Homo sapiens: one gene and its partners. The protein of the gene in region 2 interacts with the protein of the main gene of each other region in a biochemical or structural test. Each region holds a gene or a part of one and is shown on either strand. Other genes may lie near its edges.

Evidence for each region.
Region 1: the proteins of RAB3B (region 2) and PIGR form a complex in vitro, tested with the Homo sapiens proteins (one study listed by BioGRID).
Region 3: the proteins of RAB3B (region 2) and RPH3A form a complex in vitro, tested with the Homo sapiens proteins (one study listed by BioGRID).

What each region holds. Positions count from the first base shown.
Region 1 is NC_000001.11:206,928,542-206,938,536, reverse strand, and holds part of PIGR (polymeric immunoglobulin receptor precursor), read left to right. Parts: intron 1-785; coding exon 786-1,442; intron 1,443-2,718; coding exon 2,719-3,051; intron 3,052-3,790; coding exon 3,791-4,117; intron 4,118-5,370; coding exon 5,371-5,551; intron 5,552-5,959; coding exon 5,960-6,081; intron 6,082-6,734; coding exon 6,735-6,866; intron 6,867-6,981; coding exon 6,982-7,040; intron 7,041-8,123; coding exon 8,124-8,219; 3' UTR 8,220-9,995.
Region 2 is NC_000001.11:51,986,344-51,996,178, reverse strand, and holds the start of RAB3B (ras-related protein Rab-3B), read left to right. Parts: upstream 1-5,478; 5' UTR 5,479-5,627; intron 5,628-9,835. UniProt on the Homo sapiens protein: The small GTPases Rab are key regulators of intracellular membrane trafficking, from the formation of transport vesicles to their fusion with membranes.
Region 3 is NC_000012.12:112,889,814-112,899,442, reverse strand, and holds the end of RPH3A (rabphilin-3A), read right to left. Parts: intron 9,420-9,629; coding exon 9,363-9,419; intron 8,595-9,362; coding exon 8,440-8,594; intron 7,165-8,439; exon of another isoform or gene 7,058-7,164; intron 4,866-7,057; coding exon 4,784-4,865; intron 3,667-4,783; coding exon 3,570-3,666; intron 2,794-3,569; coding exon 2,663-2,793; 3' UTR 562-2,662; downstream 1-561. UniProt on the Homo sapiens protein: Plays an essential role in docking and fusion steps of regulated exocytosis.

The DNA of each region.
Region 1 (9,995 bases), about 150 Mb from region 2:
ACAAGGGTTTAACAATGAGGCTGTTTTAGATAGTCAAGGGCAACTCAAAAGAGAGGTCTACGGAGAAAAGAAATTCAGGGGGACTCCCAAAGACATGTCTTGCTCCTTTGGAATATGCATACTATTGTCTGTGGACTAAATGAGGAGGTCATTTAGGTGGGGATCAAGATTCAAAACCACAGAATCTTTAGAGGTGAAGAGGGCTTAGAGTTCACCCTAACCGGACACTTAGAAGAACATGCTGATGACGGGTATGCAGCCTCTGATTAAGCACTTTAGCAGAAACTCACTGCTCCCTGAGACAGCCCATTTCACATTTAGACTCTTGTAATTTTTAGAAACTTCTATTGTATGCGTTGAAATCCATCACCCTGCATTTACATTCATTCTGTTCATTTCAGCACACATTAATTTGGCCACCTACTACCCAGAGGCATTGTGCTTGTCACAGCAGAGGGGTCAAACATGAGAAAAACATGTTCCAGCCTTCAAGGAACTTCCAGTCCATGGAGAACATAATTACCCATACACCAGATTGGATGTAATAAGTGATGCAGATGTATCAAGAAAGCACAGGGCAGGGAGAGATTAGTGTTAGCTTGGGAAAGGTTTCATGGAGAAGACCGCTGTCAAGCTGGGCCTTCCGACAGCATTCCTCTGGGAAGGAGGGCATTCCAGGTTATAAGTCCACCCACACCCTAACTAGGAATAGCAAATAGTCCTATGTTGCAAGAAAGTAGAATCGTAACTTGCCTGCCCCCTACCTTGCACCCCTCATCCTGCAGGTCCTGGGCTCCTAAATGACACTAAAGTCTACACAGTGGACCTGGGCAGAACGGTGACCATCAACTGCCCTTTCAAGACTGAGAATGCTCAAAAGAGGAAGTCCTTGTACAAGCAGATAGGCCTGTACCCTGTGCTGGTCATCGACTCCAGTGGTTATGTAAATCCCAACTATACAGGAAGAATACGCCTTGATATTCAGGGTACTGGCCAGTTACTGTTCAGCGTTGTCATCAACCAACTCAGGCTCAGCGATGCTGGGCAGTATCTCTGCCAGGCTGGGGATGATTCCAATAGTAATAAGAAGAATGCTGACCTCCAAGTGCTAAAGCCCGAGCCCGAGCTGGTTTATGAAGACCTGAGGGGCTCAGTGACCTTCCACTGTGCCCTGGGCCCTGAGGTGGCAAACGTGGCCAAATTTCTGTGCCGACAGAGCAGTGGGGAAAACTGTGACGTGGTCGTCAACACCCTGGGGAAGAGGGCCCCAGCCTTTGAGGGCAGGATCCTGCTCAACCCCCAGGACAAGGATGGCTCATTCAGTGTGGTGATCACAGGCCTGAGGAAGGAGGATGCAGGGCGCTACCTGTGTGGAGCCCATTCGGATGGTCAGCTGCAGGAAGGCTCGCCTATCCAGGCCTGGCAACTCTTCGTCAATGAGGGTAAGACCCTAGAGAGGGAGGGGGAGTAGGTGGGGCAGTCTCGCAGGTGAGAGCCAAGCTCAGCTCCCTCTGAGTGTATTCATCAATAGTCATCAATCAGCCAACAGCATCCACTCAATGACCAGCCCCGAACTGGAGGCTGCGTGGGCTGCTGCACAGGACAGCAAGAAAAAGCAACCTCTGCCTGATGGCAGCTCCTAATTACTCTTCTGTTATCAAAGTCATTTTGATGGCTGTCCCTGCTTAACAAGCAAGAGGTGAGTAAAGCTCTTGATTGAGGCAGGACTTATAGACTGTGTTTCAGGGCTGTGGCAGGCTCTGCAGGGGTCCTCTGTCCCCTCCCCTGGCCCCTGAACAAGATGGGTGCCTCATCCCTCACATTCAGATGGAAAAAGGATTGGCTTATCTTGGTCTCAATGCGTTCCCAGGAGTGCCCCAGCCTCTAAATGTTTCACTGTCACATTTCGTAGGGTTATTTGTGAATTTCAGCACCATCTGGCCCACTCAGCCCTACTCCAGTGAGCCATCAGCATGGTGAAAGAATTAAATCCCAGCTCCTTCTCATCCCAGAGCACCCTGCATAGAGTTGCCCTCGTGAGAAGCAGCAAACCAGTACTTGCAGTTCCAAGTATCTGTGCTTGTGACTTTTTTTTTTTAAAGGGGCTTATATTCTCTGCATGCCATGTCCACATCCAGCTCTGGGTTTTCACCAGAATCCCCTGCATCTTTGGTCACCTGCTTCTCTCTGGATCTCAGCTTTAGCTGCCTGGAGAATGGCTATCGTCTTTGAGATGCCCCTTGGGGCCCCAACAATTAAGCTCACCTTTGCTACATACTTTATAGTTTACATCATACCATCCTAAATATATTTTCTTGATTTGGGCATAATCCATTGGGCCACTTTTGTGGAATACACTTGTTAGTGTACTAAATAGACAAAAACCTACACAGAGGGAGACTTTGTAAGAAGCCAAAGAAGAGCTGATATCCTCTCCTTCAACTCCTTCCATTCTCTGCTCAGAATAAGATGGGGGAAAAGAACAACATGTGCAGGCTGATGGGGAGACTCCAAGCCCTTGGAGTCTGGCCCTGATGGCTCCAGCTGCAGGCTCTGTGACATTAGGAAAGCTCCTTTTCATTTTCTGAAGAGGGTAAGGTGATGCGTGTAAACTTCACTCCCCATCCTGGCTGAGACCCCGGGAAGAAGGCTTCTCAGGCCACGCAAGGCTCTTCCTGCGTGGCCATCCTCCCATCCCATCTCTGTCTGTGCTTCCAGAGTCCACGATTCCCCGCAGCCCCACTGTGGTGAAGGGGGTGGCAGGAGGCTCTGTGGCCGTGCTCTGCCCCTACAACCGTAAGGAAAGCAAAAGCATCAAGTACTGGTGTCTCTGGGAAGGGGCCCAGAATGGCCGCTGCCCCCTGCTGGTGGACAGCGAGGGGTGGGTTAAGGCCCAGTACGAGGGCCGCCTCTCCCTGCTGGAGGAGCCAGGCAACGGCACCTTCACTGTCATCCTCAACCAGCTCACCAGCCGGGACGCCGGCTTCTACTGGTGTCTGACCAACGGCGATACTCTCTGGAGGACCACCGTGGAGATCAAGATTATCGAAGGTAGGAGTTGACAGGGAGGGAGAAAGCTCTAAAACCTCTCCAGCCAGCAGCAGCATCCCCAACCACTCTTCCTCCTTTTTCACCCGCCTCCACCCTGATGGGCCAGACCTCAGGAGGGAGCCCACCTATCCAGAGGTCACATTTTCATGCCTATAACACGCACCTTACACTCTGAATTACCATACATGGTACCTCCTACTACCAAGAACATGGGCTTCTTTCGCAGTGTGCAGGCATCAGCTGAAGTCAAGGATTGCAGATACCTCTTTGTATTGAGTCTAGAAGAGAAGGAAGAGTGAGGAAAGCAAACTGAAGTCCATGTGTGAAGATCTATGGTCTATGGTAGACTCTGGATTGATCATGGTGCTCATCAATAATAATTATTACCTAGGCACACAATTACATTTCTTCTGTAGTCAGAATAACATACTTATTTCTAATGCTATCCAAAGAGGATATGTAGACTGAACATGGTGGTGCATGCCTGTAATCTCAGCACCTTGGGAGGCCAAGACAGGAAGATTGCTTGAGCCCAGGAGATGGAGGCTGCAGTGAGCTATGATCGCACCACTACCCTCCAGCCTGGGTGACAGAGAGAGACCTTGTCTCAAAAACAAAAACAAAAATATATATATATATGTATATGACATGTGGACAAAGATTCCCACCAGAGTCACTTCCCTGCAGCATCTCCAAGTACCAACTTCTGTGTTTATTTCTACCTCCCTCCCTCCTCCAGGAGAACCAAACCTCAAGGTACCAGGGAATGTCACGGCTGTGCTGGGAGAGACTCTCAAGGTCCCCTGTCACTTTCCATGCAAATTCTCCTCGTACGAGAAATACTGGTGCAAGTGGAATAACACGGGCTGCCAGGCCCTGCCCAGCCAAGACGAAGGCCCCAGCAAGGCCTTCGTGAACTGTGACGAGAACAGCCGGCTTGTCTCCCTGACCCTGAACCTGGTGACCAGGGCTGATGAGGGCTGGTACTGGTGTGGAGTGAAGCAGGGCCACTTCTATGGAGAGACTGCAGCCGTCTATGTGGCAGTTGAAGAGAGGAAGGCAGCGGGTGAGTCTCCAAGGACAGGGCCTGCACCCCTCAGACCCAGAGGCAGGACTTCCTGAAGGCCCCTGCCTGAGAGCTTCTCAATCAGTGCTGGCCCCTATGTTTGGCTGTAAGAGGCTGAAAGTGGAGAGTGGGAAGGGAGGGGACATTTAGGTCCTATATAGCCTCGTTGAGCCCTTCAAAAGGGACATCTCAAATAAACATACCAACTAAGTAAAAATAGTGGGTTTGCTATTTAACCTCGGCATTAAGACAACTCCCAGCTGAATGTGGTGGCTCACACCTGTAATCCCAGCACTTTGGGAGGCCGAGGTAGGCAGATCACTTGAGGCCAGGAGTTCAACACCAGCCTGGCTGACATGGAGAAAACTCGTCTCTACTAAAAATACAAAAATTAGCTGGGCATGGTGGTGTAATCCCAGCTATTTGGGTGGCTGAGGCATGAGAATTGCTTGAACCCAAGAGGCAGGGGTTGCAGTGAACTGAGATCGTGCCACCACACTCTAGCCTAGGCAACAGAGCTAGATTCCATTTCAAAAAAAAAAAAAAGACAAGTCCCATAGTTGCCACTTCAACCCAGATTGAAGTCTCTTCTATATCTGGAAATATTCTTCTCTGTATAGAAGAATAATATGCATACATCACTGTCATATGCAATATGTTCATCCCCCTTCCCCCTGCCAAAGCTCGCCCTCGAAAGAGGGCCAGATACCTTCATTTACAAGGTCTGATCAGGAAAATTAGGAAACATCTAGTAAATTTGCATTTCAAGTCCCCTTTTAAAATTTCACATGAAATGTTTTAGCCCTAATAAGGGTATTTGTAGTCCCTCAAGAAATCCTATTGGGTCTGGACCCTGCGGATGGGACTCACTGAGGGGCCCATCGCCAGGCTACCTCCAGGGGGCAGCACTATCATACCCAGCTGGGCAGTCAGGAAGCCTGGGGCAGCGTCTCAGAGCCTTGAAAATCTCCCGGGCATAAGTGATGGGTCAGCCTTTATGCACAGCTGGTCTATGACACGAAGCCTTGAAGGTCCCCACTATACTTTTGGTAGTAATGGGGCAGAGATCATCTGTGACAGCTGAAGAAGGCCATCACAGCTGTTTCTAATGTCATCCTGGGTCCTACCCCAACAGCCTTGAGATCGAACCCTGACCCTGTGATTCCTCATGAAGTCTCCCCCAGACTCCTTCACCTCGAGGAGTAAGAGCATAGAGAAAAATCACAACCCAGGCCCACTCTTCCCTGCTGCAGGGTCCCGCGATGTCAGCCTAGCGAAGGCAGACGCTGCTCCTGATGAGAAGGTGCTAGACTCTGGTTTTCGGGAGATTGAGAACAAAGCCATTCAGGATCCCAGGCTTTTTGCAGAGGAAAAGGCGGTGGCAGATACAAGAGATCAAGCCGATGGGAGCAGAGCATCTGTGGATTCCGGCAGGTAAGGAAGGATTCAAGGCTCCCCACTCGGAGAACACCCCAGAGCCGAGCACCTGAGGCTGGGCCACCAGGTCCAAGGAGGAAAGCCCATCTGTCTCTTGAGCACTGGGGCAGCCCTTACTACCTCTGCTTATATGTGGGAGGGTCCTATGGTACCCTCTGCCCTTCTCCCATGGCTGGGGAGGTGTTTACAATTCAGTTCAATCTTCCAGGCCTAGGATGCAACAAGGCCCAGTGCGTGCCTTTGCCAGTCTGGGAAGGCTTCTTAGAAGAACAGAGCTAGGGAGCTGCATCAGCAGGGTGGGGTGGATAAACCTGGGAGGAAAAAGGACTAAGCCAACCTTGCCAGCACATCGTCGGGCCCCCAGATCTCCCTTCCAGGGATGAACTAACTTAAGCCTTCTTCCAGCTCTGAGGAACAAGGTGGAAGCTCCAGAGCGCTGGTCTCCACCCTGGTGCCCCTGGGCCTGGTGCTGGCAGTGGGAGCCGTGGCTGTGGGGGTGGCCAGAGCCCGGCACAGGAAGAACGTCGGTGAGTCCCTGGGATACTCCCTGCCTCCCACCTCCAACCCGAGCCCTCAGTCCTGAATCATCCACCCATAGAGGAAGCTGCTGTGTCTCTTCTTTTTCATGAGCTAAAACAAAGGATCCCGAGAAAGCAGGATGGGGAAAGATAAACCCACACATACTCGAAACTGAAATTCAGAGCTGCTGTCCAAATACTAACACTGGAAAATCATCTCCAATTACCCAGGATCTAGGTTCAGAGACAGGGCTGCCAGGAAGAGGAGATTGGGTTTCAGGAGACCCTGGGCTTGGACTAATTGGATAACTAATGAGCTGTGTGACATTGAGCCATCCTTATGCCATGCCTCAGTTTCCTCATGGCTCAAGTCAAGGATGATAATCAGGACCTCACGGGGCTGATGTGAGGACCAAAGGAGATGCTGTGCATTGAAAGGTCCCAGAGTGACAAAGATCAGGGATTACCAAGTCCTGATTACCCAGGAAAAGGGACTGGGGAGGAGACTCGGATCATTTCCATCCCCCTGGGTCATAGTCAGAGCTGCACCACCTCAGCTGTCCTGCAGGGCTACAGTGGATCCGCCCAGAGAGAAGCAGCCCAGCCTGGCCTTCTAGGTCCCAGCCCCTGTCCTTACACCAACTCCTCTTCCTCCCGGACAGACCGAGTTTCAATCAGAAGCTACAGGACAGACATTAGCATGTCAGACTTCGAGAACTCCAGGGAATTTGGAGCCAATGACAACATGGGAGCCTCTTCGATCACTCAGGAGACATCCCTCGGAGGAAAAGAAGGTATGACCCTCACTCAAGGGAATGCTCAGCCCCTGGGGAGAGTAAGAATTGGTCTCACATCTGGGTTGGGAAAAGGAGGCTAGTAAGGGCTAACCTACCCTCTTTCTTCACACAGAGTTTGTTGCCACCACTGAGAGCACCACAGAGACCAAAGAACCCAAGAAGGCAAAAAGGGTGAGGAGGAAGAAGGAAGCCCCACTACATGACAAAGAAATGCAGCATGAGGGGATGCAGTTAGACTTCAGAAAGAACTACCTCAACATGGGGGCCGATCCCAGAATAGGGAGGATGATATAAATAGTCCTCAGGAGTCCTCAGGACTTTTTGAGGAAGAACTATATCTTACTGGTTGTGGGATGCTGATGTGGATAAGGCCCAGGAAGGAGGTGAGCTATATGATTAGGCTGTAAAACTGCAGGAGAGAGGCAGGCCAGGAGATGAGGAAAGCAGGTGCATAAAAGATGGGAAGCTACAATGCCAAATGCTGGTGATTAAATGGATGCTCTTCCTGGGTTGGGGGACCCAAGGACCTCAGGCCACACATCCTCCCTTGAGGGTTTGCTCAGGACCAGCTTTTTGCCTGGGCCTAGGAGACATTTGCTTGCGGTGGGCAGTTTGAGGCTAGAAGCCCCTGCTCACTTCTCTTGAAGCCCCACCAGAGGCAACTCCTGCCTTGGGTGCCATATACCATCCCCTCAATCTGCCCTAGGACTCAGGGGACCAAGAAAAATAACATCTCATGCCTTTAATCCCGAGGTGAGAGTTTTTGTTGTTGTTGTTGTTGTTTTTATCATATCTACTTTTTCTTGAAACATCTCTGGCATTTAGCAAAGTTAGAACGAGTTATTCCTGGGACAGCCTTCCCCTTTAACTTTGTGGTGCCAAAAAGCTACCTGTCTGGGCTGGTGGAGAAAGAAAAACATACACCACCGTGGTTGACCCCAGCCTAGGCCACCTTGCCCGTGGACTGTGTGGGCAGCTTCCGGGGACAGGCCCGGGCAACAGAGGCGGTTCCACTCCGTGTGTCAGAAGGAGGTAGTGAGACAGAAGAAGATATTTTTAGAGGCTGCAACTTTCCATTTCTCAAAATGCGTCCTTCTTGGTGAGCATGGGGGCTGGGATGAGAACAGTGGGCCCCAAAGGCTTGTGTTGCTTGGACCAAGATCACGAATTCAGGACATTAAGCACCTCCCCTCCCCTGACTCCACCCACTGAGCCAGTGCCCCCAACACTGATGCCTCTCCTCTTGCCCCTTAGTCATCCAAGGAGGAAGCCGAGATGGCCTACAAAGACTTCCTGCTCCAGTCCAGCACCGTGGCCGCCGAGGCCCAGGACGGCCCCCAGGAAGCCTAGACGGTGTCGCCGCCTGCTCCCTGCACCCATGACAATCACCTTCAGAATCATGTCGATCCTGGGGCCCTCAGCTCCTGGGGACCCCACTCCCTGCTCTAACACCTGCCTAGGTTTTTCCTACTGTCCTCAGAGGCGTGCTGGTCCCCTCCTCAGTGACATCAAAGCCTGGCCTAATTGTTCCTATTGGGGATGAGGGTGGCATGAGGAGGTCCCACTTGCAACTTCTTTCTGTTGAGAGAACCTCAGGTACGGAGAAGAATAGAGGTCCTCATGGGTCCCTTGAAGGAAGAGGGACCAGGGTGGGAGAGCTGATTGCAGAAAGGAGAGACGTGCAGCGCCCCTCTGCACCCTTATCATGGGATGTCAACAGAATTTTTCCCTCCACTCCATCCCTCCCTCCCGTCCTTCCCCTCTTCTTCTTTCCTTCCATCAAAAGATGTATTTGAATTCATACTAGAATTCAGGTGCTTTGCTAGATGCTGTGACAGGTATGCCACCAACACTGCTCACAGCCTTTCTGAGGACACCAGTGAAAGAAGCCACAGCTCTTCTTGGCGTATTTATACTCACTGAGTCTTAACTTTTCACCAGGGGTGCTCACCTCTGCCCCTATTGGGAGAGGTCATAAAATGTCTCGAGTCCTAAGGCCTTAGGGGTCATGTATGATGAGCATACACACAGGTAATTATAAACCCACATTCTTACCATTTCACACATAAGAAAATTGAGGTTTGGAAGAGTGAAGCGTTTTTCTTTTTCTTTTTTTTTTTTGAGACGGAGTCTCTCACTGTCGCCCAGGCTGGAGTGCAGTGGCGCAATCTCGGCTCACTGCAACCTCCGCCTCCCAGGTTGACACCATTCTCCTGCCTCACCCTCCCAAGTAGCTGGGACTACAGGCGCCTGCCAGCACGCCTGGCTAATTTTTTGTATTTTTAGTAGAGACAGGGTTTCACCGTGTTAGCCAGGATGGTCTCGATCTCCTGACCTCGTGATCCGCCTGCCTCTGCCTCCCAAAGTGCTGGGATTACAGGCGTGAGCCACCGCGTCCGGCCTCTTTTTTTCTTTTCTTTTTTTTGAGACAAAGTCTCACTGTGTCACCCAGACTGGAATGCAGTGACACAATCTCGGCTCACTGAAACCTCTGCCTTCCAGGTTCAAGCTATTCTCATGCCTCAGCCTCTCAAGTAGCTGGGACTACAGATGTGGGCCACCATGTCTGGCTAATTTTTTTTTTTTTTTTTTTTTTTTGTAGAGACAGGGTTTCGCCATGTTGACGAGACTGGTCTCGAACTCCTGGCCTCAAGTGATCTGCCGCCTCAGCTTCTCAAAGTACTGGGATTATATAGGCATGAGCCACTGAGCCTGGCCCTGAAGCGTTTTTCTCAAAGGCCCTCAGTGAGATAAATTAGATTTGGCATCTCCTGTCCTGGGCCAGGGATCTCTCTACAAGAGCCCCTGCCCCTCTGTTGGAGGCACAGTTTTAGAATAAGGAGGAGGAGGGAGAAGAGAAAATGTAAAGGAGGGAGATCTTTCCCAGGCCGCACCATTTCTGTCACTCACATGGACCCAAGATAAAAGAATGGCCAAACCCTCACAACCCCTGATGTTTGAAGAGTTCCAAGTTGAAGGGAAACAAAGAAGTGTTTGATGGTGCCAGAGAGGGGCTGCTCTCCAGAAAGCTAAAATTTAATTTCTTTTTTCCTCTGAGTTCTGTACTTCAACCAGCCTACAAGCTGGCACTTGCTAACAAATCAGAAATATGACAATTAATGATTA
Region 2 (9,835 bases):
AGAGATGGGGTTTCACTATGTTGGCCAGGCTGGTCTCGAACTCCTGACCTCAGGTGATCTGCCCGCCTCGGCCTCCCAAAGTGCTGGGATTACAGGCATGAGCTACCGTGCCTGGCCTATTTATTTATTTTTTAAATATAGAGACAGGGTCTCTCCATGTTGCCCCAGCTGGAGTACAGTGGTTATTCACAGGCATGATCCCACTACTGATCAGCACAGAAGTTCTGGCCTGCTGTTTCTGACCTTGGCTGGTTCACTCCTCCTTGGGCAACCTGGTAGCCCCACACTCCTGGGAATTCACCATATTGATGCTGAACTTAGTGAGAACACCTGTTCTGCATAACACACATAACAGCCCAGAACTCCTGAGCTGAAATCATCCACCTGCCTCAGCCTCCCGAGTAGCTGGGACTACAGGCAGGTGCCATCTTGCCCTTGCAGGACTCTTAATCACAATGATGTTCACTGGGCAATCAAAATATAATTTTAGAGTCTAATAGAAAACGCCCTGTCCTTGGAGTCAGACAGACCTGCTATCTGGCTCTGCCACTTACCAGTTGTATGACCTTGGGCAAGTCACTTAAACTTTCTCAATTCTCTTTCCTTGTCTATAAAAAAGGGATGATAATCTATAACTTGCATAATTATATTGAGGATTAAATGAGATAAAAGATGTGAATAATCTTAGTGTAATTTAAAGATTCAATGAATATAATTGTTAACTAATCTGAGCCAAGACAAAAGGTAGAATTTTGTCTTCATTCAGGGGCCAGGTTCAGTGGCTCATGCCTGTAATTCCAGCACTTTGGGAGGCTGAGGCGGGGCAGATCACCTGAGGTCAGGAGTTTGAGACCAGCCTGACCAACATGGAGAAACCCCGTCTCTACTAAAAATACAAAATTAGCTGGGCGTGGTGGTACATGCCTGTAATCCCAGCAACTCAGGAGGCTGAGGCAGCCAAATCATTTGAACCCGGGAGGCGTAGGTTGCAGTGAGCCAAGATCACGCCATTGCACTCCAGCCTGGGCAACAAGAGCAAAACTCTATCTCAAAAAAAAAAAAAAAAGAATTTTGTTTTCCTTCCCATTCTTCCTTGGGCATTTGGATCTGGAAGTGAAGACAGTCCAGTATAATTTGATTTGTGTTGTTCTTCCCTCAGGTGGTTACCTTAGTCAATAAGAAGGTAGCTTATGAGGGCATAAATGATGCAACCCAAATGTCAGATGTGGCCTCTCTGCCTCCTTTTTTTTTTTTTTTTTTTTTGAGATGGAGTCTCGCTCTGTCGCCGAGGCTGGAGTGCAGTGGCGCGATCTCAACTCACTGCAAGCTCCGCCTCCAGGGTTCACGCCATTCTCCTGCCTCAGCCTCCCGAGTACCTGGGACTAAAGGCGCCCACCACGACGCCCGGCTAATTTTTTGTGTTTTTAGTAGAGACAGGGTTTCACCACGTTAGCCAGGATGGTCTTGATCTCCTGACTTCGTGATCCGCCCGCCTCGGCCTCCCAAAGTGCTGGGATTACAGGCATGAGCCACCGCCCCCGGCTTTTTTTTTTTTTTATTTGAGACCAAGTCTGACTCTGTCACCCAGGCAAGAGTGCAGTGGTGCGATCTTGGTTCACTGCAACCTCCGCCTCCCGGGTTCAAGCGATTCTCCTGCCTCAGCCTCCCAAGTAGCTGGGATTACAGTCACCTGCCACCATGCTGGCTAATTTTTTTGTATTTTTAGTAGAGATGGGGTTTCACAATGTTGGCCAGGCTGGTCTTGAACTCCTCACCTCAGGTGATCTGCCGACCTTGGCCTCCCAAAGTGCTGGGATTACAGGTGTGAGCCGCTGTCTGGCTGCCTCTCTGCCTCTTCAAGATCCAAATGCAATGGGCTTGAACCTCAATATTCACATTTCCCAACTCATGTAAGTGCAAAGTCCTACACAAGTTTTTGCAAGTTCCACAAGGGCTTGTGGTCTCACAGTTACCTCTGCTTCCAGTCTCCTTTTTCAACTGAGACCTAACAAAGCACATTGCTCAACTCCCTACTCATGTACTCTCACAATTCCCCTCTCTCAAAAAGCGTTCCTGGGTGTAATAGCCCTTCCTGAAGTCTTGAGAGTCACATAGGATGGTCACGTCCTAGTGTAACAAACAACTTATCCCATTTTAGGTATCCCACTGCTGAAACACTCTTGTCAACTACCATGGGAGAGTTTCTTCTGACTCTTTACCTATGTAGCACCTATCCTTACATTGATTTTCTTACTCATCTTTTTCCTTTTCCCCTCCGATCTCTATTAACTTGCCCTCCCATTTTGTCAAGTGAATTCCAAATTTGCCTTCCCCCAACCCTCCCACCCCCACCTTTTTTTTTTTTTTTTTTTTGAGATGGAGTTTCACTCTTGTTTCCCAGGCTGGAGTGCAACGGCGCAATCTCGGCTCATCGCAACCTCTGCCTCCTGCTACCCCTAATTTTGTTTAGATGGAGTCTCACTCTGTTGCCCATGCTGGAGTGCAGTAGCACAATCTCGGCTCACTGCAACCTCCGCCTCCCAGGTTCAAGTGATTCTCCCGCCTCAGCCTCCCGAGTAGGTGGGAGTACAGGCGCCCACCACCACGCCCGGCTAATTTTTGTATTTTTAGTGGAGACAGAGTTTTACCATGTTGGCCAGGCTGGTCTCGAACTCCTGGCCTCAGGTGGTCCCAAAGTGCTGGGATTGCAGACGTGGGCCATCATGCCCCACCTACCCCTACTCCCTTTTTAAACATAGAGAGCAATTTCTTCTCCCAAAGTTACGTATTCACTCTCATCAATTGAGGCCCCAAGCAGGACAAAAGGACTTTCTGTGCATTGGGATCTGTCATTCCTGGAAGGCAGTTGTGGTTTAAAAATAGCACTTTTTTTTTTCTGTTATACGAAGCACAGTGTTTCCTATTTGTTGAATGCTTACTGTATGCCTACCACTCTATCAAGTCCTCTCCAGTAGCTTGTGTTCTCATTTGATCTTCCCAACAACTCTGAGAAGCAGCTCTTATTATTGCTCTTTCTACAAATAAGGAAGGGGTGTGCGTGCGAGAGAAATTAGGTAATTGGCATAAGATCACACAGCAAGCAAGGACTGAAGACCAGGTCTGCCTGGCCCCAAGCCTGTGTGTGCCCTTTCTAATTTACTATACCGCCTTTCAGAGGAGGGAGAAGGAGAAAGCAACCAGAAGAACTGAGGCTACATAAAAGCAATACCATCTGTTCTCATATTGTCTCACAACTTTAAAAGGATGGCTCTATATGCTGTCTCATTATTCCTAGGAAGAAAGAATAATCATTATCATCTCGTCTATTTTGAAATGAGGGAAGTAGGGCCTTGTGAGAGAAAGAGAGTGAGGGAGCAGTTCAGCGTAGCATGTTTGATTTTGCTATTACAGAGGTACCAGCAGTGGGTGATTAAGAGCTCAAGAGTGACCATGGGAGCTGGTGGCCAAGGTGATGTGGAGGACAAGGACTGAGGGACCAGGAAATCTCATAGCTACTGAAGTCACCAGGAGGATGGCAGGACAGGGGCTAGTGAGGATGACCATGAGCCAGGGGCTGCAATCTGTAATGCATAAGGAGCAATTGGGGGGTCAGTGATGAGGAGGGGTTGAGGGGGGTATGGCTGGAGAGCACAGAAGAAAGAATTTTTGCACAAGGGTGGAAATGGCCATGCCATCCCCACATCCTAGTTTTATAGTATATGGGGAGTGGAAAAATGAGAAGCCTTCTAGCAGAGGGCAGCAAAGGAGGCAGTACCTGGAGGAGGCTCAGGCAAAGAAGTCACCTGAGTACTCTGAAGAAGCAGAGGGTATAGCAGAGTTTGTTGACAAAAGAACAGGATTCTAGAAGGCACAGAGGAAAGAGCTGCCAGTGTGATGGGCAGTGTGAGTGAAAGGGCTGGGCAAGAAGCTCAGAAGAGTAAGCGTCTGAGGCAGAGGCCAGACAAGCAGAGGAGCTGTCAGCTTGGGTGGTTCCTAGGCTGGAGATGTACACTGTAGACAGGGTCATAATGGAACTTGGGGGGAAAATGGTTTTGGTATTTGACTCAGACCTCTAAGATCTGAGATGGGGGAGAAGTGTGGGGAAAGACAATGATTCTAGAGCAAGCCTTCAGCTGGCTCCTGTGACCTCAGGAAGACTGGAAGTCCATATCAGGATTTGAGGGTGGGGTATTTATTGCCTCCTCTATCTGCCTCCTCTAGTGGAAGTGGGACTTCCTAGGGCCAGGCCAGGCAAGAACATTTTTCTACTCCTGTTGACAGCCTCCTGGTAATGGGAAACCATTGAGAGGTTTTTGTTTGTTTGTTTGTTTGGTTTTTGATGGAGTCTGGCTTTGTTGCCCAGGCTGGAGTGCACTGCTGGAGTGCAGTGATCTCGGCTCACTGCAACCTCTGCCTCCTGGGTGCAAGCAATTCTGCCTCAGCCTCCCAAGTAGCTGGGACTACAGGCATGCACCACCATGCCCGGCTAATTTTTGTATTTTTAGTAGAGACAGGGTTTCACCATGTTGGCCAGGTTGGTCTCGAACTCCTGACCTCAAGTGATCTGCCCACTTTGGCCTTCCAAAGTGCTGGGATTACAGGCGTCAGCCACTGTGCCTGGCCGAGAGTTTTCTTAAACAAGGTTGATGGTAACATGGTGACATTTTTTAAAGGGTTGCTCGGGCTTGTGTCAAAATGATTTTGGTATCTGACTCAGAATGAATGGGACCAGGAAGTCTCACAGCTACCGAAGTCACCAGGAGTATGGCAGAACAGGGGCTAGTTAGGATGACCATGGGCCAGGGGCTGCAATCTTTAATGCATAAGGAACAATTGGGTGTCAGTGATGAGGAGGGGTGGAGGGTGGTATGACTGGAGACCACAGGAGAAAGAATTTTTGTACAAGGGTGGAAATGGCCATGCTGACACCACGTCCTGGTTTTATAGGGTGAATTGGAGAGTGAAGGCAGGAATTAGGAAGCTGTTGCATTAGTCCAAGCAAGAAGTGATGATGCTGGAGTCAGAACAAGGGCAATGGAGACACAGAGGAAGGGCAGGGATATGTTAAGGCGGTGGGATGTGGGGTGTGAAGGAAACACAGATAGGGTAGAGGACAGCGTCCAGGTTTCTGGCTTGGTTTCCGCTTGTAGTCAGCCTCCCTCTCTGGGCTTTTGTGAAGACGGAGCCATAGAACGGACCGGACCAGAAAGCAGTTTGGAAATGGCAAAACTGCTACCCATCATCAGCTACATTATCATCAAAGCTCTCTAATTACCCTAGTAAGTTCAGTCAATGGAACGAGGCATGACAATTAAGATAAATCACGAGAGTCACCCAGACATGGGGGACCTGGAGGTCCTGAGTCACCTCGGATTACACCTGCTAGGAGTTGAGGGCCGGGGCGGGGCGAACACAGACTCCGCCCTTGGGCGGGGCCTGGATGCGGCCGGAGCGGAGCAGTGCTGGAGCGGGAGCCTCAGCCCTCAGGCGCCACTGTGAGGACCTGACCGGACCAGACCATCCCGCAGCGCCCCGCCCCGGCCCCCTCCGCGCCCTCCCGACGCCAGGTCCTGCCGTCCCGCCGACCGTCCGGGAGCGAACCCGTCGTCCCGCACTCGGAGTCCGCGGTAAGGGGCGCGGCCCCGGCAGCCCGCCCGCGGAGGATCAGGGACCGATCCCCGGCGCGGGGCGCTGGGCACCGAGAGCGGGCGCCGAGAAGGAGCGCGGGGCAGCGGAAGGAAGCCGGGGGAGGAGCGAGGGAGGGGGCTCCGCGGCGGCAGAGGTGGGGCTCACCTAGGGAGGGGGCGCCGAGGGGGTCTCCCAGACGTTGGGGGCAGCCGGGGGAGCTCCAAGGGCGGGAGGGGAGCAAGAAAGACGGCGCTGGGGCTGGGAGGAGAGATGGGGGGCAACTGGAGGGCAGTGAGGGATCGCTGGGGGAAACGGGGGCGTGGGGGGCGGGGGAGCTGCGAGGAGGGCGGAGTGGGGCTGTGCGGAAAGGTGGTACCGGGCAGCCGAGGGGCAGCGAAGGGGGCGGTGAAGGGAGCGGACTGAGGGGAGCTAGAGCGGGGGTGCGGGGGGAGGCATGGAGGTGAGGAGCTGAGGGGAGGGGACTGGCTGGGCGGGGGTCGTTTGGAGCTGGAGGGGACTGAGGTGCCGAGGGCAAGGGGCGCTGGGCAGCTGGGGAGTGTCTGGTTGGGAGAGGGTCGGGGGTGGGGATGTGGGTATGGATAGCTGGGAAGGAGAAAGGCAGCAGGGCAGTGTCTGGTCGAAAGAGGGTCATTTATGGGGGATGTGGGTATGGATAGCTGGGGTCGGAGGTTGAGCCCGGCTGGGGACCGGCGTGGGGGTAACTGTAGATGGAAGACGAGGGGTGGGGCTTGGGGGCGGGAAGCTTGGGAGAATGGAAGGGTGAGAGGCCAGGTTGGGTCTACCCTGCTGCAGAGGAAGGGGGCAGGGAGCCGGTGGAGACACAGGGAAGTGGCCTTGGAAATGGACACAGGGGCCTACATTCTGGTCAGGAGTGGAGAGGAGGCTCTGGAATAGAGTAGGGTCTGGCGGCTGCAAGTGGAGGAATCGTGGGAGAACTTGGAGTGTATAGATAGGGTGGTGGGGCGCTGGGTCAGCCTGGGGAGGAGGCCAGGTGTGGGTCGTGGTGTAAGGGTGGAAAGGTAATGGGGGCTGGAGTGGTGTCCACGCACTAGCGGTGTCTCGGCCACTCAGGAGTCCAAGGAGGGGACCCAGGCACTGGACCTTGTTACACGGGCACCGGGGATCACAGAAAATAAGAGAATCGTGGACAGAAAAAGTCATCCAACTCTGTTCTGTAGTCCAAGCATGGAAGCAACTTTGGGGAGGGCAGGGCAGCAGCCTTTGGAAGCTAAGAGAGATGTGGAGGAGGTGGGAGAAAGATGGGCCCTCAAAACACACACACACACACACACACACACACACACACACACACACACACACAAAACAAGATGGGCCCTCTTCCCCCGGCTTCCTGGAATCCAGATGGAAAGGGGTGGGAGACAGTAAAAGGAGAGGATGTGTGTGTGTGTGTGTGTGTGTGTGTGTGCGCGCGCACAGGTGGGTGTCCACCTGTTCTGTGCCTATAAACAGAGGAAGACAATGGAAGCCGTGAAAGGCCCTATCTATAGAAGTGGAAAGCCCTGGTGCCCTGTGGGAGCCAGAGAAGAAGCATTTTGGGGGAGGTGGGTGGGTTGGGGAAGCCTTCCTGGTCATGAAGGATTTAGCTAGCAGTGGAGGAAAGTGTGTTCCTATCAGAGGAAACCGTATGGGAAAAGGCAAAAATCTAAAAGCATCTCCAGTCCAAGAAATAGATCTTCAGTTTCTTAAAGATTATGACATGAAGGGAGGCATCAGTAACCTATACAAAATATTTAAATAGATTTCCCCTCTAAGCTTGAAGCTCCTAGGGTTTCTCTCCATCTCCCTAAAGTATAGCACAGGTCCTGGTGCATAGTAGGTGCTTGGTGAATGTTGATTGAATGAATAATTGGTGCTCCTGCCTCAATTTCTTCATCCATTCCCAAGAATTGTTGTGAGAATCAAATAGGATAATGTGGGTGAAAAGAACTTTGTAAACTGTAAAACAATGTACAAAGAGAGAGGCCACTGATGTTATTCTGCAGGTGTTCCTGTTTTGTCAGTGGACACACCCATGGCTATCTCTTTCCAATCTGGAGGAGGAAGGAAATGAATATCAAGCATCTGTTGGTGCAAGATGGAATGCTTTGAAAGCATCTTGTAGAATGCTAGACATTTAGTAGGTGCTCAATAAATGGTAGCTATTGTGATATTGTTTCTGTGGCTCTAGGAGACCTGGGAAAACAATGAGAAGGTGGTGATGGGTCAGCAGTGGGGAATGGTCTAAAGACAGATTGAATTAGAAAAGTAGAGTATGGCTTAAAGGAGGATGAGGTCCACATTTGCCCAACTCCCTTCTTATTCTCACTGAAATGCTCCAAGTAGGAAGACAGGGAATTACATTATTGAGCCCCTGCTATATTGCATATACAGTTGACCTTTGAACAGCATGGGTTTGAACTGTGTAGGTTCACTTATACCTGAATTTTTTTTTTCAACCAAACACTGATTAAAAAAAATACCATGGTGGGTCAAGCGCAGTGGCTCAAACCTGGAATCCCAGCTATTTGGGAGGCTGAGGTAGGAGGATCGCTTGAGCCCAGGAACCTGAAGCTACAGTGAGTTATGATCAGGCCACTGTACTCCATCCTGGGAAACAGAGTGACACCCATCTCTTAAAAAAGAAGAAAAAGAGAAGAAAATACAGTAGTGAAGGGAGGTGAAGTCTGTATATTCAGAGGACCAACTTTTAGTCTAGGTGGGTTCCACTGGGCCAACTGTGGTTCTTGAGTAGGCGTGGATTTCGGTATATATGGGGGTCCTGGAGCCAATCCCTTGCCTATACCAAGAAATTACTGTACTATTCTAGATGTATAACCCACATTACCTATAATTTTCCCAACAACACTTGTTTTATGAATGAGGAAACTGTCTTAATCATGTAACATTTCTTGCCAAGGTCTCATAGGTAATAAATGATAGACCTGGAAACTGAATCTAGTTTGTTTGATTTGGAGCTCCAAACTATTTCCACTACACAGGATGACTTGCTAGAAGAAACCATGAAGCACAGAGACAAACAAACAAACAAAATAAGGGGTTAATAAAACACCCTCCCATATACAGGTTTTAATTCTTGCAACAGTTTTGCCAGGAAGCCATTTTATGAGCTCCTTTTATAGATAAGGAAACTGAGGCCAGGGGTGTGATTTGCCTAAGTTTACAGGATCACTGAAAGAGCCAGGGCTTATCTTTCAAATGCCAGGTCTCTTGGACTCAGTCTCATGTTCTTTGCAACAAAAGGTAAGTTCCTTCATTCACTTCTTCACTCCATTTATTGAGCTGATCTCTTCTCGCTGGATTTTAGGGCTCTCTCCTCCTCCTCCCCGCTCTTTCCTGGCTGAAGTTGGCTTCTTCCTTAGGTGCTTATTTCTGCCGCCTATCAGACTGAAAGGGTTGTTTTTCACAGCCACCCTTTGAGGAGTCATTTCTTTCCCCCAGCCTGGGACAGGGACGACTTCCCAGATGGTCCCTGGGCCTTCATCTGTATTGCTTGTCACGGAGATAGCTCTATCATTTTATGTGACTGTCACAAAATAGAGGAAAGATTTGATTGATGCTTATCTTACAAATGCAATTCTGCATGCACCACTGTGCATGACCTGTCTGCTTAGATCTGCCTCAGGCAGCTGCCTGCTGGGATGCTTTTTGCCTGTCTTCCAAATGTCTGAGTAGCCCCTGGCCGCCCCCTCCTAAGAAGATCCCCTTGGGGGCTTCCATCTGAATGAGCCTTCCAACTGAACTCAGCTCTCTGCCTCTCCCCGTTCTCACACCACCTACTGGGAAAGCCATGCTGTGTGTGCATAAGCAGATGTTAACAGTGTGGTATGGCAAGTACAGTACGGTAGCAGGACACTCAGGATGTTGGGTATGCTTCTTTTTTTTAATTTTTATTTTTAGAGATAGGGTCTCACTCTGTCACCCAGGTTGGGATACAGTGGTGCAATCATAGCTCACTCTAACCTCGAACCTCTGGACTCAAGTGATTTTCCAGCCTCAGCCTCCCAAGTACCGAGGACTACAGGTGCACACCACCACATCCGACTAATTTAAACTTTTTTTGGCTGGGCGCGGTGGCTCACGCCTGTAATCCCAGCACTTTGGGAGGCCGAGGCAGGCGGATCACAAGGTCAGGAGACCGAGACCATCCTGGCTAACACGGTGAAAC
Region 3 (9,629 bases), on a different chromosome or scaffold from region 2:
ATTGTAGGTTGGAAGGTGCTACAATGCAAGGGAGGCATTTGATGGTCCATGCTCATCGATCAGTGTGTGAAGAACACTGGATTCTGGGAGTCCAACGATCGAACTCCTTTCCTGGTATTGCCTTTGTTTAACACTGGACATGGCATTTTCTTCTCTGGACCTTGGTTTCTTCATCTGTCTAAAAAGTGAGTTGATTGAACTAGGTTGTGGCTCAATTGTATGTTCTCTTTTAGCTTTGGCAATTTCTGATTCTGCAACCACCTGGGACGTTTCCCAGGTCTTGTAGCAGCAGGAGGAGGATGAGGATGTTGCCCTCCTGTTTGGTAGGCACCAGCAAAAAGTATTCTTCTAGAAGGGTTTGGAGTCAGCCAAGTTACCTTAGGCCCACCTGCCCAAGATAAAATCCACCATAAAGCAAACTCCTCGTGGGCAGAGAACACATCTGTCGCCAGTGCCTGGAACATAGTAGATGCTCATTAAGTACTGACTATCAGAATAGCATATGTCCTGGTGGGGAGGAGGACTTCGCAGAAACCAGAAAGGAAAACTGCAGACCACTCGTTTTCTTGGATGCTCCTACTTTATTTTTGGCTACATCATCACAAAGAAAGATGCTGGGTGGTTGTGCATGCACCGGAGGACGTGTGTGTATTCTAGGCAGGGAGGTGGTTACATTTGTCGGGGACAGCGGGCACCCAGACTAGGGGCACTGTGAGCTTGCTGCATGCTGATTCCAGCGCCTACACCAGCATCAGGCTTGGGCGACACAGCCAGCATGCTGTCTCCTAAGGGGAAACTGTGGTGAGGGAGGTGGGCTGAGAGTAGGTGCCACCAGGGACTAATGGGGAAAGATAAGGTCAAAAGGAAAGATGGCAGCCAGGAAGCTGTTGGCCACCTTGGGGAAGGTGAAGAGCTCGATGTTTAGAAAATGGTTATTCAAGGCAAGAAATGAGTCCTCCCATGAATTGTGCAGGGAGCTGAGGGTGGAGGGCGTTGAAAAGTTAAGAGATGTGATTTGGGGAAAGTGAGAGTTTGAGTATCTGTCTGATGCTTCTGTAGAGAATGTCAGGGGTTTGGGATGACTGGGAGTGATTTTCATGAGGGAAGACTTCATCAAAATTGGGAAAATCGAACCTTTCTCACAGGGCATTGAAGATTGCCTGACTTCAACCTCAAATTTGTAATGTTTGCCCACATTGCCTTTTCCTCCTTTATAAAATAATTTTTTTTATAGGAAGAAAGTGAAAGATTGATGATGAGCCCAAAGCCTTTGGCATCAGGCCTGTCTCTCTCTACTGTTCCATAGCCATGATATTATTTGATTCTCCCAGGAAGCTTAGTAACGAGAGTGCAGGAGACAGAGAGACAGACAAAGAGAGACAGAGAGACTGGAGGGGGTTCTGAGTGAGAGATGGGATGCAAAAGAGTCAATGAAACAGAGTCAAGGGCATTGGGGAGGAGGGTAGCTTGTTCATTTACCTAAGAGCGGAGAAAGGAGAAAGGCTGGAGGCTTTGGCTGAGGCTTCCTCAGACCCATGGCCCTGGTCTTCTAAATGCCTCCGTGCCCACCCGGGGAGCCCACGGATGAGAGAGTCCTCTATGGGGCATCTACACAGCTTGAGGGATGCTGCCATGCACTCAGGGCAGTGCCAGCCATTGGCCCAAGCCCTGGGAATGTCTGGTTCTGCCAACGGGAGGAGTGGGTCAGTTAAGAAGCGTGGGCCCAAGTGGAATCTCAGGTTTGGGCCAGTTTCTCAGTTTCCTGGTCAGGCTGGTGAGAGCAAGGGGGTGAGGCTAGGTTAACATACACTTTTTTTGCTGTTGTTTTTGCGGTGTTACTGCTTTAGAGAGAGAGAAAGGCAAAGGGAAGAAAGGCAGGGAGAGAAAGGAGAGGGGAGAGGCTGAGAAAGAGAGAATCTACTATCATGGAAGGGAAAGAAGAGGGAGGAGGAGAAAAGGTGACAGAGGAAGGGTTTTTTGTTGTTGTCGTTTGTTTTTGTTTTGCTAGGAAGCACACAGGTGACATTCGGAAAGAGGAGAGCGTCCAAGCCCCTGGTGAATTCTGTGCATTTGCATCCTGGTGCACTTGGAGCAGGGAGGGTGTGTTACTGAACACAGCAGTCTGTTTTCCTGGCAATCAGGGTGTACATCTCAGGGGGCAGTGGGAGCCCGGAGGCTCTATTTGTGCCCCAATGCTTCTCTCACAGCATTGTCCGGGTCTGCTGACAACTGGGGATATACAGAGACACAACACAGGGAATGAAAGGGTGTGTGTGTGTGTGTGTGTGTGTGTGTGTACATGTGTGTGTTCAAGGCTAGGAGGGTCTAAAAACAGTCCTAAATGATGAAGAACCTTTGTAATTTACCCAAACTGAGAGGTTATTAAATGATCAACCTCTTTGTAAACGTCTCCCCAACCCCATCCCCATTGCTCCATCCCAGGGATGAGAGAGGGGCTGTATTCAGAGCCCACATCCCAGCATCAGGGAGGAGGGAGTCTTTGGCAGCAGTGCCCAACGTGACGGGGGCTCAAAGGCAGGCTCAGGGAGATCAGCAGGGTATGGGGGGAGGTAGGCATAGAGAAGAGAGATCAGGGTGCGGTGGGCAGCTAGAGCAGGCTGGGGGGGACCCGGGACATGGAGATGGGGACCTGGGCACTAGCCTAATCACTTGACACGTGGTTCTCATTCTGTAGCTGGTGCCAGCGCTCTATCTTCTTGTCTTTATTTTTCAGACACTCGTACCAGTGTTTTAAGCGCTCTCCCTTGGCAGAGATCCCCAGCTGGCAGCCTCCTGGAGGATAAATGGGAAGATAGGAGCAGGTGGTCAGAATAGAGGTCGTTCTAGACCCAAATGTGTAGTTGGGGAAAAAACTGCACCAAGCAGTGACCCCCAGCAACCTGGGATCCATACTCTATAGAGAGTTGTTATAACGTTGCTGCTGTTGTTGTTATTATTATTACGGTCCTTCTCTGCCTCAAGAACCTGCAATGGCTCCCTACTGTTCCACTGAGTCATAATTTCACTGTCTATTTTTAAAGGCTTTCTACAAATCACCATTCTACTCACTGAAACTTATCTCCCACTACTTCTGGGAACTCATTGTCTATTTCCAAAAAGGTTCATCATCCTGCTCAATCCTGTCTTTACCCCTTAGCTCAGGCTCTGTCCCTTGCCTGGAGTCCCCACCCCCCTGCTTCATCTTTAATTGATTTTCTTCCTCATGATTCAAACAGGAACTAAAAAATTAAAAATTTTATCCTGGACATGCAAATAAATTAAGAATTCTTTTGCACCCTGCTTTCTGCAGAGAACGCAAATCTCTCCTGTGATTTAATTACCCCACTGGAGGTGATTTGTTCAACAAATAATCAAGTTTTGTAAGGCTTTTCATGTAAAGACATCCCCAAATTGGACCAAGGTCAAGATCATGGGTCTCAATTTAGCATTTGAACAATGAGGTTGCCAAAAGAATAGCAATGACCTCAACTCTCTGTAGCCCTGGATAAGGCTCTCCTGTTCTGGGGAGGACAGAAGAGGGCGTTTTCTCTGGAGTTAGGAACACTCACCGATGTAATCATTGGACTTGCCGATGTCATAGTCCCAGACTGAAATGTCCAGTGACTTCTTTGCCAGGTCACTGTGTTTGATGTCATAGAAAAACTCCTGAATACAACAGAGGAAGACATGTGGGTAAGAGCCCTCTGAACCCACAGCATTGGGAGGTAAGAGGCCGAGTCCTAGGGGTTATGGGCCAAGGAGAGGTCCTTGAGCTGGCATTCTGGGAGCAAGGAGGTCTTCCCGTGCCGATCCTCTGCCCCAGGTCCCGTGATCCCCTTCCAACAAACACTCTGTGTAACAAAGCACTGTCATCCTCTTTTCAGTGAATTCTCTGCTTGAAATTGGGAAGGCTGGTGAGGTTTTTCTAATAGAGCTCAAGTTTCCTTGTAGGTAAATGGCCATGAACATAGTCCTTCCCCTCTGGTAGTTTATGAAGGGGCATCCCCTTTTTTATTGCTTAGGAATAAAAGTAGTTGAAGTGGCCGGGCCCGGTGGCTCACACCTGTAATTCCAGCACTTTGGGAGGCTGAGATGGTGGCTCATTTGAGCTCAGGAGTTCGAGACCAGCCTGACCAACATGGTGAAACCCCATCTCTACTAAAAATACAAAAATTAGCCAGGCATGGTGGTGGGCACCTGTAATTGCAGCTATTCGGGAAGCTGAGGCAGGAGAATTGCTTGAACCAGGGAGGTGGAGGTTGCAGTGAGCCAAGATCACGCCACTGCACTCCAGCCTAGGCCACAGAGTGAGACTCTGTCTCAAAAATAAATAAATAAATAAATACAGTTGAAGTGGACTGAGTACATATGTTCCCAGACAATCTGATTTTTAAAAAATAGCTTCTCTGCCTAATTACAAAATTCATTTTATGTTCATTGCTAAAACAAAGAAGAACCCCCACCCCCAATTCCCGGTAATCCAACTACCCAAGAATAACCATGTCAACATTCCCCCACATGTGTTCACAGTGATGTATAAATTTTTTGTTAACTAAGTAATGCTGAACATACAGTATTGTCACTTCCTTTTTCATTTACAACTTTGGGCAAAAACCAACTTAGCATGTTCTCAAATATTTTTCAAATATTTTTCTACATCATCATTTCAAATGGCTGCATTTAATGGCTATGTGGCCACATATTTAATGGCTATGTGGCTATTTGTGCCTCTCTAACACACAGCAAATATCCCAGAGCATGAAAAAGAATAGGGCAGCCTTACCTCATTGAATTCGGGATTCAAGGTTTTCTTTTTAATTTGAGTCTTGTGTTTGGCCTTCTTTCCCATGTCCGGTTTCAGCCAGCTGGGAGGCGACACAACATGCTATTATGGATGACGTTTAATGAATAAGAACAGCCTCTTGACCCCAAAGGCCCCTTCTTTATCAGGGTGAATTGATGAATAAATCAGAAAGGGATCAACATTGATAATGACCAATATGCATTAGAGCATCTGCTTGGTACCAGGCACTTGACTGAGCAACTTAGGCATATTTAATCCCCACATGACCCTAGGCAGTAGAACCACAACCACTCAGTTTACAGAAACAGAAACTGAGATCCAGAGAGGCAGAAGTGTGCCCTAGCTCACACAGCTGGGATTGAATCCAGATGTTGCATCTAGAGTCTGTGTTCTTAGCATGCTCACTTTCTCCCCATAAGTCAAATTGATGGCCATGGCTGGTGGTGCCTGGCATTTTACCATCTATCCCACCTTAGGCTGCCCCCAATCCCTAGAGAGAGGCTGGGTGTATGCACAGAAAGGGGAAGATGCAAATCTGATTATTGTCACTCCACTTCTCAAAACTGTGTACTGGGTTCCTTTTAAACTCAGGGGAGAGTTCAAAATCCTTCATGTGGCCTTAAGACCGTGTGTGTTGGGTTTCTGCTCCATCCCAACCTAACCTTATGCCATCCTCCTCACCCCACTCCTTACTTCTCCTTTCCACCCAAGGGCCTTTGAGCAAACTGTTTCTTCTGCCTACAGGGCTCTTTTCCAGTGAGGCCCAGTGTCTGGCACATAGTAGGTACTCAATCAATATTTTCTGGGTGAGGCTGCGTATGGTGGCTCGTGCCTGTAATCTCTGCACTTTAGGAGGCCAAAGCGGGAGGATCACTTGAGCCCAGGAGTTCCAGACCGGCCTGGGCAACATAGCGAGAGCCTGTCTCTATAAAAAATAACAAAAATTATCTGGGCACAGTGATGTATGCCTTCAGTCCCAGGTACTCAGGAAGCTGAGGTGGAAGGATCTCTTGAGCCCCAGAGTTCGAGGCTGCAGTGAGCTATGATCACACCACTGCACTACAGCCTGGGCAATAGAGCGAGACCCTGTCTCTTAAAAAAGAGAGAGAGAACAAAACACAAACCAAACAAAACAAAATATTTCCTGGGTGAGTAAACACAATGGGCTAAACACTCCTAAGGGCTGGGACATTTGGATTCTGATTCAGGTTGTCACCAGCGGAGCAACTTTAAACATGAGCGTAACTTTACCGTGCCTCTGTTTCTTGACCTGTAAAGAGGGCGAACATTTCATTCTCATCTACAGAAGTGGTTTTGAGGATAATTTTTAAGAAGAGACAAAAATGAGGAATTAGAAGTTACCAAAGAGCTAAGCAAAAATAATGGGAAGTTCTGGCTTTTAAAAAATCTTTATTTGATCAGAAACTGCTTAGTGGTCTCCCATTTTTTCTCCCATAACTGCACCCAGCAGGTCAGCTGCTTCAGTAGTGACCACGGCAATTCTACTTCTTCTGGAAGGATTGGGTAGGTGGGGGAGGGGGTGGTAGAGAGAATTATTTAAGAAAACCAATCTGCACATGGCTGACCTCTAATGGAGTGCTGGACAGCACCCCTTGAGCTCATTTCCTCTCTTGGGTCATACGAGGAAATAAAATCAAATTACTCTTAGAAACCAAACTTGTCCCTGACCTGTGTGTTCTTTGTTAACTAAATCTTCATTCAAAGGAAATGTGAAAGACAGCCCACATGGATCTGTTCTTTGGCCATGGACTAAAGGGAAGTATTGCTTTCTGTTATCAGAGGCAGTGGAGGTGGGGGGAGTGTCTCCCAACTGGAGGGGATATTAGTAAATACTCTCTGCCATGAGTAAGGACAGTGATGGTGGTTATTTATAACCATAATGGCAGGTATTTATTAGCATTTACTGTGTACCAGACCCCTTGAAAATGTACCTCTCAGCCTGCATTCTCCAGTTGCAGGGGGTAAAACTGATGAACAAGCTACTGGGCTCTGTATTCATGATGTTCTTGCTGAAGCCACGCTTCCCACAAGTGTTCTTAGCCAATAACTGACGCTAGCAGGGACACTAGGCAGCCCCATTTCTGGGAAATGCAGGACTCCTCTGATGGGTGACTGTGCTCAAGGATTCTCCATCACCTTGGATGAAATAGTGCAGCTTCCTTGGAGCTGCACTGTAGCCTAAGATTGTTTCTACCCAAACTTCCTTCCTTCTCTGCTCCACAGGGGTCATACCTGTAGCAAGGTCTGTGGTCTCTATGGGTCCCCTCTGGATTCCTCCTTATCTCCTCTACAGGCACACCTGTATCTTCTCTTGGTGTTTCCTTCTTGGAGGACCTGAACTAATATACAGTATTACAGTATTACTCTGTCCATTTTGCAGATGAGCACACTGAGGCCTAGAGATGTTAAGCTATGAGCCCCAGGTCACATAGCTAGAGCATACTGGAGACTCCATGCTCCATGGAGATCCACATCCACAGAAACATACATGTTGCTGCCCCAAGGCCAGCAGAATTCTACTGAGGTGCTAAACATTTCTGTACCAGGCTCGATTCTGTTTGCTTTCTTTGTGCTATCTCATTTGAGCCTTAAGCCCACCTTGGAGATAAGTGGAACTCTTGTCTCCATTTTACCAATGAAGAAACTGAATGAGAAGCTAAATAACTTGCTTAGAGTCCACAGCCAGCAGCTGGCAGAGATGAGAATAGGGCCTGATGTCTGACACAGCGGTGGCTATGAGATTGCACCTGGCAGACCTCCAGCTACAGGAAGCGTAACTGACCAAGGCCCTGGATGCAGTGCTTGGAAGTCCATGACATATTTGTGCCAAGGCCATGCTCCCAGCCAATGACTGGGCCTGGCAGGGATGCTAAGGTCGGCCCACTCCTATGAGATACAGGACATGTCTGATGGCCAGTTTTGGCTTGAGGACTCCCTGGTGGCCTTACTGAACTTGTATCTGGAATGCTTCCCTCCAACTTCTCTATCTAGTCCCCTCACTCAGGTCAGACTTGCATTGTAGTCTAACATCTCTCCCTTTCTCCCCTGACTCCCTGCAGACTTCCTGGAATGGGCATTTCCCCTGATAAACCCCTTGTCTGCTTAATCCTATTTTGGCATCTTCTTCTCAGAGGATCTGGACTAACACAGATAACAGAGTCCCTTTTATTCTCCATGATGAGATTGCTGGAACAGACCCCAGACTGAAGGCATGTTTTTTTTCTGAGCATTTCCAGAATGAATCTGGAAAATGCCAGATGGCCTCTTTGGTGGTGGAGGTCTGAGCGGTCCGAGGGGTGTGCGGCCAACTCCTGGGAGTACAAATGGGGCTACTATAACTAATTAGCTTAGTTGCAGAGCCATCAGCAGGCCCTCAAGAGGACAGAGCCACAGAGCTTTGCCTGTGGGCAAGTGACACACCAGTTTGACTGCCTGAGACTCCAGACCCACATTCTTGCCAGTTGTAGGCATTTGTTTCACTGTGACCTTGGGCAGGTTCCTTGCCCTCTCTGGGTCTCAGTGTACAACGATCTTGGTGAAACTGTCTGGTTCTCCTTTTCCAAGGCTCCAGGACTCCTTCAGGGCCCACCTGTAGCCCCAAGGCATTGACTTACAGCTTGACGAATGGGTCTGAGTAGCCATTAGCGTCCATGGCAGCCAGGTGCACGCAGCGTATGATGCCCACAATGAGGCCTCCCTGCTGTGTGCTGTACATGAGGGAGACCAGGATCTTGCCACGCTCCTCGATGTCACCAACACGCTCCACCTGCTGCATTGGGGGAAAAGGCAGTGTGGGCCTTGGAGGGGAGGGGGCCAGGAAATGTGAATGGCGAGCATTAGGGAAGAACCTATGAAGGGCAGGCGAAGCTTGGCCAGCTCTAGGGAGCCAGTACCAGGGACAGCAGATGGCTTAGCCTCCAAAGAGGAGCCAAAGGTGAAAGTTGAGGACCAGTCTCAGGCACATGGGGACCAATGGCTTCCCTTTGACTTAGACATAAACAGACTCTGACTGTGAGCACAGACTAAACTTGCTCCGGGTCACTGATTGGCTTTGGCTCTAACCCAGGACTGAGCCTTGACCCTGGCCCCAGACAGATTCTTGCCTCTGATCTCAGACTCCCTTAACACAACCAGTATTCTTAAAGGGCAGTCCTTGGGGTCATATGAGGGACCCAGGCAGACAGCATGAAGGCTTAGTTCAGTTTCTGCCATGCACACAGCTCAAAGAATGCATCTACTCCAAGAAAGGAGTGTGCCATTGCCCTAGTCAGTAGAATTGTCAACAAAGCTTCTGACAACAAGGCCAAAAACCTGGTGGGCATCCTGGGTATGAGAGAAAGGGGCTTCCCCCTCCTCAGAGGCTTAGGTGTGGAGAGGACATCACTTGTGGGCAAAGGGTTGTTCTCAAGGCAAATCAACAGGGGGGTGGTTGGAAGAGAATGGATGAGGAAGGGGCCAGGGAGGGAGAGAAGAGGAAGATGCTAGCCTAGCCCAGTACAGACCCTGACTGTGGCTTCAATTCCTGCTCAGTGCTCACCTCTTCCTCATAAAGGGCCATGCCTCGGGCTGACCCGGTGGTCCCAGCACGTTTCATCTTAAAAGAAGAAAACAAATAAAAGATAACATTGTCTATGGAGCTCATCTTCCTGCGCAAGAAGGACCAGAAACCCCTCATACTTCCATTACCATCCAGAGCCATGAAAGTGGGTTCTTAAGCTACTGTGGCTCTCCTGCATTCTCCCTTTTAGCTAAAATTTATAAAACTTAGCCATATGGCAAGCTATGTGAATGTGTAACAACCTAT